Regions from separate parts of the Homo sapiens genome. Here region 2 is linked to region 1. Evidence: fine-mapped expression QTL. A gene starts in region 1. The other region holds a variant in brackets. All regions are shown on one strand. Distances are from middle to middle.

Region 1 (5,423 bases):
CTTCTTTCGATCTATGTGTTTCAGAGTCTCTTAATGACCATGAAGTGAAGTTACATGCCCCTTCTGACTCCCTCTCTGGGTATCTCTATACAAATACGAAGTGATAAACTGAATATTCTCTCTGTGACCCTGGTAACAGACCCTGGTGGGCAGGATTGTCACGACTACGTCTCCTCCACCAACCTAACCTCGGGTGGTTTCTCTGCTCTGTCAGACAGGGTAACTCCTTTTGCCCTCCAAAACCACTTCCACCTTCTGCTCCTTGCACCTACTTTCTTGCCCCTACCAAGAATTTCTCCCCCTTATTTTTTTCTTTCTTTGCCTTACAAAAGCCAGCTCATTTTTTTTTCCTTTTCTTTTTTTTCTTTTTTTTTCAGATGGAGTCTCACTTTGTCGCCCAGGCTGGAGTGCAGTGGCGTGATCTCGGGCTCACTGCAACCTCCACCTCCCGGGTTCAAGCGATTCTCCTGCCTCATCCTCCTGAGTAGCCAGGACTACAGGCATGCGCCACCATGCCCAGCTAATTTTTGTATCTTGAGTAGAGATGGGGTTTCACCCTGTTGGCCAGGATGGTGTCGATCTCTTGACCTCATGATCCTCCTGCCTCGGGCTCCCAAAGTGCTGGGATTACAGACATGAGCCATCGCGCCTGGTCCAAAAGCCAGCTCCTTTCCGTGAGGCTGTGTCCTCAGGCTATCTCAGACTGATGATGTGGTTCCAACTTCTGACCTCTGAGCGATCCAGATTTCTGAAGCATGTGTTTGTGACTTATTAATACTGCTTTGCATACTTCCCTGATGTCTCCTTGTGGTCTATCAGCTCCCCATCTTCTTGAAGGCAGAGACAGATTATGAATCGTCTCACCCAGCACACAACTTTGCACAGGCTGTACTCAAACTCAGCAGATGCTTATAGGTAAGTGGTGCCCCAATGTCAGGGGCTATTGTCAGAATGCCCTGCTGGAATATGGCCACCTGACAATCTCAGACCGAGATCATCAGTGTTCACTAGGCTGCCTATGGGCTCTCCTACAGCACTTTGCCAATCCGTGGGAGTTGTTATGTCCAAGGTAGTTGCTGGGCCCAAGATACAGAGGAGACAGAAGCATACCTCCTCCCTCCAAGACCTTCCTACCTTACCTGCACCTGACACCCCATGTGCCTGATGATATATACGTGTATATATATATCATATATATAGCCATATATAATATATATGAATGAATATATCATATATATAGCCATATATATATATATATATGTATGAATAAATATTTATTCATTTACTAAGTACCAACCAGGTATCCACAGTGTGCCGGGCACTGGGCATAGAGTGATGAGGAATGCAGATACAGCTCCTGCCTGTGGTGCCTCAGGGCTGGAGTCCCTCCCACACAGAGCCTGGGTTGTTCCTACTCCCTCTGCCTCTCTCTCTCTAGACCCTGAGATATCTGGGCTCAGGTATCTCTGATCTGCACGTGTTTCCTTTGGAGGTAGGGTCTGTTTGCCCTTTGCTGATGCCAAGGGCTTCCTCCTAAGTTCTTTCTACCTGCTCCCCCTTTTATCCAGGACTGAGCCATAGCTCCTTAGTCCCAGGAACCACCTTCTAATCCGTGTCCTCTGCTCACACAATTTTGGCTGGGTCTCTCCTAAAATCCAAGAGAGGCCTGGGCTCCCCAGGAACAACCTAATGGTTATAATCACTGTGTGTTTTGCATTTTAAATGTCTGCTTGGTTTAAATTAGTGAAGCCAAGAAGTCAAAATTCTAAGAAAAGTAAATAAAATTCTGACCGGTTTGGGAAAAGCAAATCCAAGCTCCTGCTGGGCTCCAGCTGGAGGTCGTGACCCCTAGGCTGCGAGGGTTGGGCTTTTGGCTCTTAACCTGAGGATGAGGCTCTGGGTTCTACCTGCTGCCTGGCTGACGGCTGGTTGAATGCTGTGTCAGCGACGAGCGACCCTGACTTCCCACACACCGGCCAGGCCAGGGACGGTGGCAGGAGCTTTTTCATATTCCACAGTTCAGCAGCCCCAAGCTGCTGGGGGCGGAGGACAGGTGGTGGGGGAGAGAGGATTCGGTCCCCAGGGGCCACCTGGCGCTGGTGGCATGGCGGGGAGCCAGGCTTGCCTTTGCCCTCTCTCTGTGCCGGAGCCCTGGACCCTGGCTGGCATCTCCTGAGAGCAAAGCGAAGCCCGCGAGTGATCTCTGGGGAACTTCCTAGAAAAAAGAAAGAATTTCAGGTTCGAACGGTGTAGGGAGGGCCGAACACGGGAGCAAGGTTGGCCAGGGCTGCCCTGAGCCCTGGAGAATCCCCAGAGCGATCGTCCACTACATGCCCACGTGCGTGCGTGTGCCAGGGAGCGAGAGCCCGGACAGCGGGAGTCGGAGGCAGGACCAGGAGCTGCAGAGGGGCCGCGGGCAGAGCCCCAGCGAGCGCGCTGCCCTGGCGCGGAGCCCAGGGGCCGCCCACTGGCGGGGGAGGCGGGGAGCGCGCAGGGAGGCGGCGGCGGCGGTGGGGCTTCCCCGGGCTTCCCCTCCCCGGTCCGCGGGTGCCCGGCGCGGGCCCAGGAGGCGGAGGCGGCTCCTGGGGAGAGGGATCCGGGAGTCCCTGAGGCGGCCCCGGCTCCGCACTAGGAGGCGGGGTCCGCAGTATCGCCAGCGGCCGGCGCGGCTTCCCGGAGCCCCGGAGCCCGAGGCGCGAGGTTTAGGCTGAGCCCTCCCCGGCGCCTGCCCCCGCCCGGCGCCCGCCTCCGCCCCCGCCCGCGGCCTGGAGCGCGCCTCCCTCGCCTCCCAGGGTCTGGCGAGCCGGCGCCGGCCGAGCTGCGGGAGCCGCGGAGAGCACCAGCTGACGCCGCGGGAGCTGCTCCGGCCGCACCATGCGGGAGCTGGCCATTGAGATCGGGGTGCGAGCCCTGCTCTTCGGAGTCTTCGTGTAAGTAGTGGCGCACCGCGGGCAGGGCGCACTGACGCGGGGGAACAACCGACCAAGCCTCTCTGTGCCCTAACTTAGTTTGCGCAGCCGCTTCCCACTGGGGCCTGGGTTCGAGGTCCCTTCCCCGCCAAGTGCCCGCAACGTGTCCTACGGGACCAAGAGAGACCCTTCCTCTCTCCTTCCTGGGACCCTAGGCGCGGAGCGACCACCGCGCGCCGAGGCTGAGACCTGCTCCCGGGTCTCACCGGGCCCGCGCCTGTCGCCAGCCCCGCACCACCTGCCCGGGGGATCCAGGGCTGCACCTCTAAACAGGGACGCGCACCCTGGCCCGTGCCCTCGGGAAGTTTCTCCTTCTGTGTGATCTTTGAGGCCCACGTTGGAAGTCTTTACCCCTGGCCCCGTCTCCGATTCCTCCCCGCTGTGCCCAGGGCCAGACTCCTTCCGTGTCCCTGGCTTTAGCGCCCGCGGTCCTGGCGAGCGTTTTCCCAGCGGGCGTTTGCGGCGCTTCTCCTACTGAGAAACTGTTGCTGTGGAGGCTTGAGAAGTCAAGGGGCTGCAGGCCGGGGTGGGATACACACACCCTGGAGCTCTGTGCCCGGTCGATGTCCGCTTTGGGGGCGGAGGCCCTCCAGGGGTAGCCGTGAAATGCCCAGGGTGGCTTTGAGCGGCTGGCACTGAGAACAGCGATCCCGAAAAGAAGAAGGGGTGGTGGCGCAGGTTCTTTCAGAGATGCCTGAGCCTCCTCCGTGCGCCCAGGGACCCACCGCTCATTGACTTCCAGGGCCCAAGCTGCAGGGAGCTGTCACATCTCTCTTTCAGACCTGAGCCCAGAACACCAGCTCAGAGCCACCCCGCAGCCTCCCGTGAGCTGCTGTCACCTAGGCACCCACACCTGCACTGGTCCCTCCATCAGTGAGCCAAATTCTCTCCCCCTCTCTGCCCATGGATGTTTTCTGCCACATTCTAAGTATTAAAGTTACATGAACTTTTTGGATTTGCCATGCATTTATTTATTTGTTTGTTTTTGTTTTCGTTTCTGGAAAAGCCCTCCCGAGCCAAACAGGAGGCCCTCTTTGAATTTCTGCCTCAATCTGGAGTCATCCATGGCAGGTGTGCTGTGTCAAAGATGACTTCTGTTCTGGGCAGCCCAGGGGATACACATGGAAAGAAATGCCCTTTCTTGCATGTTTTTCTTTAGCAGGGATTAAATTCATCCAGAGTATTTATTCACACCATCAGAAAAGGCCATGAGCTCCCCCAGATGCAAGCAAGCCCCCCTCTCCCGCCTTCTGCCCGAACACTGGTGTTATTCACTGGGAAGAAGGAACGAGAACTTCAGTTGGATTTTGATGCATTTGGAAAAACAAAACACTCTTCCCTTCTCCTACTCTATTTTCTACCTTTGGAATGTACGTTAAAACTAATGATTGCTGTGTGATCAGATGGGGACAGTTTCTAATTGGCAGATGGGCTAAAACCTCATTAAATTATTATGTGATAGAAATGATAAACTAGTTTTCAGTGCACAGTAGAATTTAACATTTGTTGGGTGAATGTAGGAAGAATGCTGAGATAAAGTGAGATAGGCTCTTACACTATCTCACTATCTGGTTTGACTGCTGCTGGGGGTGCTCAGATAAAAAAGGGTCCAACAATATGTAAAAATATTTATAGTTTTCAGGTGTCCCTTCCAATATCCCCCCCAAATATTTATGAGATGTTTACAGATATACAATGGTCTATGCAGTAAATTTGAAAACTTGGTAATTATTGCTTATGCGCGTCTTGCTTTTTCTAAGGGTGTCATGTAAAAGCTGGACAGGCAGTTTATGTTCTGTTCTCTGAAGTTCCCTCTTGTGTTACTTAATAGGGGATCTGTTGTCACACATGGACATTGATAGCATTTTTGGATGACTCCCAGGTTTCTTATCAAGTTGTTAACAGTGTGTCCAACTTGTGGCTCTTTTACCTGCAAAAACCAGCTTTGGTATTGATGCGAGCCTCCCTAGGGGGCAGATCTTGGATGTTCAGATGCTGTTAGTATCAGGCATGTACCGACTTCTGGGAGGACGGCTGGGAGCATGCAGAAACAGATGACCCTTTGTTTTCTCAGATAAGCGTCTGGCACCTTGACAGAGGCTGACTTTTGGGGGAAGTTTAATTCTTCCTTTTGCCAGTACTGGAAATGATGGCAATATTGGGTTGTACCTACCTCTGCTCACGAAGATGGTGGTCTTAGCAGCACAGGGGTTTAGAAAGTGCCCCTGGGCAGGCTGAATCCGATTTCCCTGCTTCAGCCAGTGTAGCTCAGCAGCTAGTTTTGCTTGGTATTTCTACCCTATTGCTCAGGATGAAAGAATTATCTGCGGGGAGAGGGGGTATCTTGCTTCTTTGCAAACTTATGCCCCCGGAGAAACATCACCTGTAGATGTGCCTGTTCTCTGACTACATTTGCTCTGCATGAGAGCAGGGATCCTGTTACCCGTAGCCCAT
Region 2 (5,000 bases), 110 kb after region 1:
GCCAGCACCCATCACAGACTGTCCCTATTGGTCAGCATTTAAGCCAAACATTTCAGGGGTAACAGATCTTCTTAATGCAAAGGCCATTTATATTCCCTTCCTGTGCTGGCTGAGACCCTCATGCAAGGCTGCCAGCAGCAGGTTAGAAGGGTTCTTCTTCTCTAGCAAACCCTGAGACAGGTTGTATGACATCTCGTAAAAGGCAGGAGGAGTTGAGGCTACTCGTTTAGAAGAGAGCAAGGCAGTAACAATCATTACAACCTAAGGGCTTCTCCTGAAGTCCATGCACCCCAATTAGAGGATGATCAGATGAGCACACTGGGCAAATCAATGACTACTCCTTGTTGGTGGTTTCTTAAATGTGCATTACTATTCAAATATCTTCATCAAATTTATGCTCTGTTAAGTCCTTTGAAGGTAAACTAAAAAATCATTTCTCATTAAAATATCATCTTTATTTCAAACCTGCTCATGCTCATATCAGCTCCTCTAATGTCATTATGGAAAAAGGCAATTTCTTTCTTTTGATGGCTTATTTTTATATTTATGTTTCAGATCATTGTGGCATATAATCAAAGGAAAAGTTATCCTGGGGATTTAGACCTTCTGTAGATTAAGATGCTCAGATATGCAAAACCACTTCCCATCCTTGTGACTGTCAGTAGTTTTCTCCAGTGCAAGGAGTAACATTTATGAGTTTTCATAAGCATTTTTCATCAAGGAGTGTGGGGTGGACAGTGGAGCCAAAGCACCTTCTGTCATTCAAAAATCCTTAATCCCCAACCAGGTGCGGTGGCTCACGACTGTAATCCTAGCACTTTGGGAGGCCAAGGTGGGTGGATCACTTGAGGTCAGGAGTTCAAGACCAGCCTAGCCAACATGGTGAAACCCCAACTCTGCCAAAAATACAAAAACTAGCTGGGCGTGGTGATGGGCACCTGCAATCCCAGCTACTCAGGAGGCTGAGGCAGGAGAATCACTTGAATCCGGGAGGCGGAGGTTGTAGTGAGCTGAGATCACACCACTGCACTGCAGCCTGGGGTAAAGAGTGAGACTCCATCTCAAAAAAAAAAAAAAATTCTTAATCCTCCTCTGCTGCTACTTTCCCTCCTTGTATCTGCCCATTCCCAGGATCAGTGCCTCCAGCCAGTTGACAAAAGGACAGCCACCTTCCTCCCGCTATCATTTTTCTTCCCACCACTGTTCTTCCTCTGCACTTCTTGTGCGTTGAGCCTGAGTTGATTCTTTTTCTCAGAACAAAATCTTCTTTGAAAATGCAACATGAGGTAAGAAAAGGAGTTTATAGTCTGCTTTTTTCTGTTTGCATTTCCTGCCTCTGACATTTGCTTTCAGACTAATTAGGAGTTTTGGAGTTCCTTTTCCTTTTCCCCATTGCTCATTTTCAAACAAGACTGTGCAACCCTTTCCATCATGAGATGAAAATCTCACATGGCTCAGGTAGCTCAGGTATCACCCTGCCTAGAAACAGGGGATAAAGGACATGACCTTTCATGTCTTTCTGTCCCCAAGGACCTTGGCCTCTTGCCAGAATCCTTAATAGGGTCCAGGTATATTTGTAAAATGAATACATGGTCTCTACCATTTATATTTTCATTTGGGCATTACATATCGGGTGCCTCCTATTGTCAGGCAGTGTGTTCGGTCCTAGAGCTTCAACAGTGACCCTGATGGGCATGTCCCTAATTGGGGGTGTGAAAACAAACAGGCAGTTAGCATTGCTCTAACTGCAATAATGCTAAGAACATCTGTGATTTTTGCTCTATTTAAAGAGAACACATAGTTTCTAAAGAGCTGCATCACACCTATATAAATGATTTGTACTTTCTGAGCCTCCATTTCTCATTCATAGAATGGCCTAATGACTACATCATTGTGTTGTTCTGGGGATGAAATGAGGCAACCTAATGAAAAGCTTCCAGCACAGTGCCTGGCCCATGGGAGGTACTCAACCTCTGATCACCTGGCTGTCCTTCTGATGGAATGCTCCTCTGCCTGCTCTGCTTGGCATGGTTTCCTCCTGCTGATGAGGGTGGGCAGGCATTGACCAGGCAGGCTTGTTTCCCACATCCTTTTTTTCAAATGGTCTTCTGGAGATGCACTTATATCCTCTGCAAAACACCCTTCCACACTAAGGTTTATTAAACTACCCAACGTTGCCTTTCTCCCTCAGAGAAGATCATACCAACTCTCTGAACATCCCAAAATGGAAAGTTTGTATAGATTGACTCATCAGAGCACAATTGTGTGTTCAGTGCCAGAAATTATCAGCTTGTGTGGAAAAATATAATTAGCAAAAGTAAAAAAATACAACATAAAAAGCAGGACCTGTCTTCCTGATTCTTATCTCATTTGTTTTTTAAGAGTTTTCTTTTTTGGTGCCAGTTTTGTGTTTCTTGTAATCAGTAGGGTCCAAAGATTTTCCGCTTGGTTTAAGAGTCAACTGGGGATGAAGTTAAACTATAACATTGCACCTAAGCTAGTGCAATGACTAGACCTTTCTTTACAAAGGGAGAGTTTTGAACTCATCTGGGTTGCTGGAGAGAAGAATTAGTGATTCCTTTTCAGTGTCACCAGGCAGGCAGATAGCCCTGTTCATGGGATGGACCTGGTGTTACCGCCTATGTCAGCTCCTTTTATTGTAATGCTTTGCCTATCTACCCTCATTCGTAACAGCCAGTGAGCATCACCAAGTGTCAGAAACAGGGTGAAAAGTCATTATCTTTCGTCTTCTTCCTAGTTTAGACCATCTTTCCTACTCACAGACAGATCAACACATAAATATTAACAATCAGCTGCTACAAATAAAGAAAACCTACTACAAGGCTTTGAAAGCGAGGGACATATGCTCTTCCCACAGGTCACTATGCTTACTTCCTTCCCATCAGTAGTAAAGGGGCGTGTGTGTGTGTGTGTGTGTGTGTGTGTGTGTGTGTGTGGTCTGTGTGTCTCCAACTCTGGAGAGCAAATGAACAAGTTTGTCCAGGACAAGTAGACTCTGAATATCCTCTCATCCCACTGGCTCAGG[AG/A]TTTTCTACTTATATTTCTGTTGTTGGTAATGTTAGCAGGATATGAGCACATTTGTCCTGTCTTATAATCCCCATGTTTAAAAATGTTTAATGCCCTAAGTCTTTGAATGCTCTTGTCTCAGTTTTAGTTCTTAATCAAGCAGAAAGCTAGGACTGTGCTTAAAGGGAGGATGGAGGTAGGGTGGGGGACAGACACTCACTTGGAATGCAGGTCATTTAACTTGTTCCATGCTAGCACCCTCCCCCTCCTCACAGTGTGTAAAATGCTTGTTTTCTTTGAGAAGAGAGTAGCAAGTCCTATGGCTAGAGTCAGAAAACATGTCTTGGACAGCCTTCCTGGTTTTTTGTTGTTGTTGTTTTTTCCTCCCAGTTGAACTTGAATCTGAGCCTTGATGATTTAGAGTCCTAGGATTTCAGAGTTGGGTGGGAGATGGCTCATGGGAGAGATTGCACCTTGATCCCAAACCCCTTAGCTGCCAGGAAGAGTGTCAGAAAAATTATGAAATCATACTAATTCAGTATGGGTTGGTAGAGTCTCATTCTTCCTCAGGTAGTTACTGGAAAAACAGGAGTGCAGAGAACCAAGGCTTCCCATAGCTCAGACATGCCCTTGGGCCAGAGGGAATGGCCTCAAAAGTCCTTTGTCAAAGGATATTATGTTAGTTCAATAACAGTATAAATATCAGTAAGAAAGTGACAAGCATAAGGTTTAGCATGAAATTGGAGCCTCATTGTGTAACTTAGGAAAGTAAGGGCACACAGTGAAGTTTAAAAAAAATATTCAAAGGCCCAGTAGCGTGTGGGCAGGAAGACTGGCTGCTGCTGGGTGCCCACAGGATCTAGGCCCTTGCACATTGCCTATAAAGATGACTTGGAATTCATCCTCTTTTTCAAAGAGGCAGAGGCTTCAACATTTTGGAGGGGTCACAGTGGTGGTCCTGGCTCCCGCCGTGTGGGAGAGAATACATTTTACCTACCCTTCAAAGAATGAGTTAGAGCCTGGGGTGCCAATGCTGGCCAAATACAAGTTCCTGAGACAGAGAAATCAGGCGGATGCTGAGGATCTCACCTCGAACCATTTGCCCAACAGTGGAGGGTTTCCACAGCCCTTCCCCTTCTCCATGCCCTGGATGTGCCCGGAGGTGCTGTAGGCAGTATTGGTTGCTTGGGCTGATGACTTATATGTCTTAAAGTCTCCAAGTCATTTTTTATGGGGACACATAAAAATTCCTGCTCAACAGCTGCCCTATGTTCATTGATTTGTTTGTTTGTTTGTTTCCCTAAGAGATGCCAGTTTGGCAACACCCAAGGCTGCCTCTCCCCTGATTCAGATCTTGGAGACTTTCATCCAAAACCATACAAAGCCCCAGGGCAGTTTTTTTTGTGTTTCCCTGCATTTAGTGTAATTAGGTGGATAAACTTGCAAAGCCACCTGATTTGAATAAAGTCCATTATTCCTCCTGAAGGAGCTCAGGATGGGATCAATACCAATGGGATCCAACTCTCCAGCCTCCTCTCCCACTGGAATACCTCAAGGAAGAATGTAAATGAATAGAAGGAACAGAGCAAAGGGGATGAGGATAGAATTTAAGAAGTCGTTGTGCTTGCTACGTTGGTGGCCAGATAGGGCCACTTTGGAACATCATGTAAACCACTTAATAACCTCCCACCACAGTATCTAGAGCAGGGCTGGGCCATGCAGTTTCTTCTCACATATTTTTACTTTAAGCAGAATACTTAATATCTATTGGCACGGCTCTGATGTTATTCATCAGACCTAACTCTGAAATCCTAGGACTCTAAATCATCAAGGCTCAGGTTCAAGTTCAACGGGGAGGAGAAAAAACAACAACAAAAAACCAGGAAGGCTGTCCAAGACATGTTTTCTGACTCTAGCCATAGAACTTGCTACTCTCTTCTCAAAGAAAACAAGCATTTTACACACTGTGAGGA

Alleles and levels. Positions count from the first base shown, and alleles are read on the strand shown. Sizes are in standard deviations (SD) of each study's normalised expression.
In carriers of allele A in region 2, the expression in tibial nerve of the gene that starts at base 2,796 in region 1 tends to be higher than with AG alone (moderate effect, 0.64 SD a copy in GTEx).

What was found.
Region 2: its variant is fine-mapped to the expression of PLPP4 in tibial nerve (GTEx, PIP 0.97).

What each region holds. Positions count from the first base shown.
Region 1 is chr10:120,454,432-120,459,854 of GRCh38, forward strand. It overlaps PLPP4 (phospholipid phosphatase 4), which reads left to right and starts at 2,796. Exons shown (of 7, transcript NM_001030059.3): 1 at 2,796-2,930. The coding sequence starts at 2,875.
Region 2 is chr10:120,568,176-120,573,175 of GRCh38, forward strand. All of the region lies in intron 5 of PLPP4 (phospholipid phosphatase 4), which reads left to right. Among named protein-coding and RNA genes, the nearest start is that of LINC01561, 27 kb to the right of the region's middle. The variant AG/A (reference allele first, on the strand shown) is at 3,047.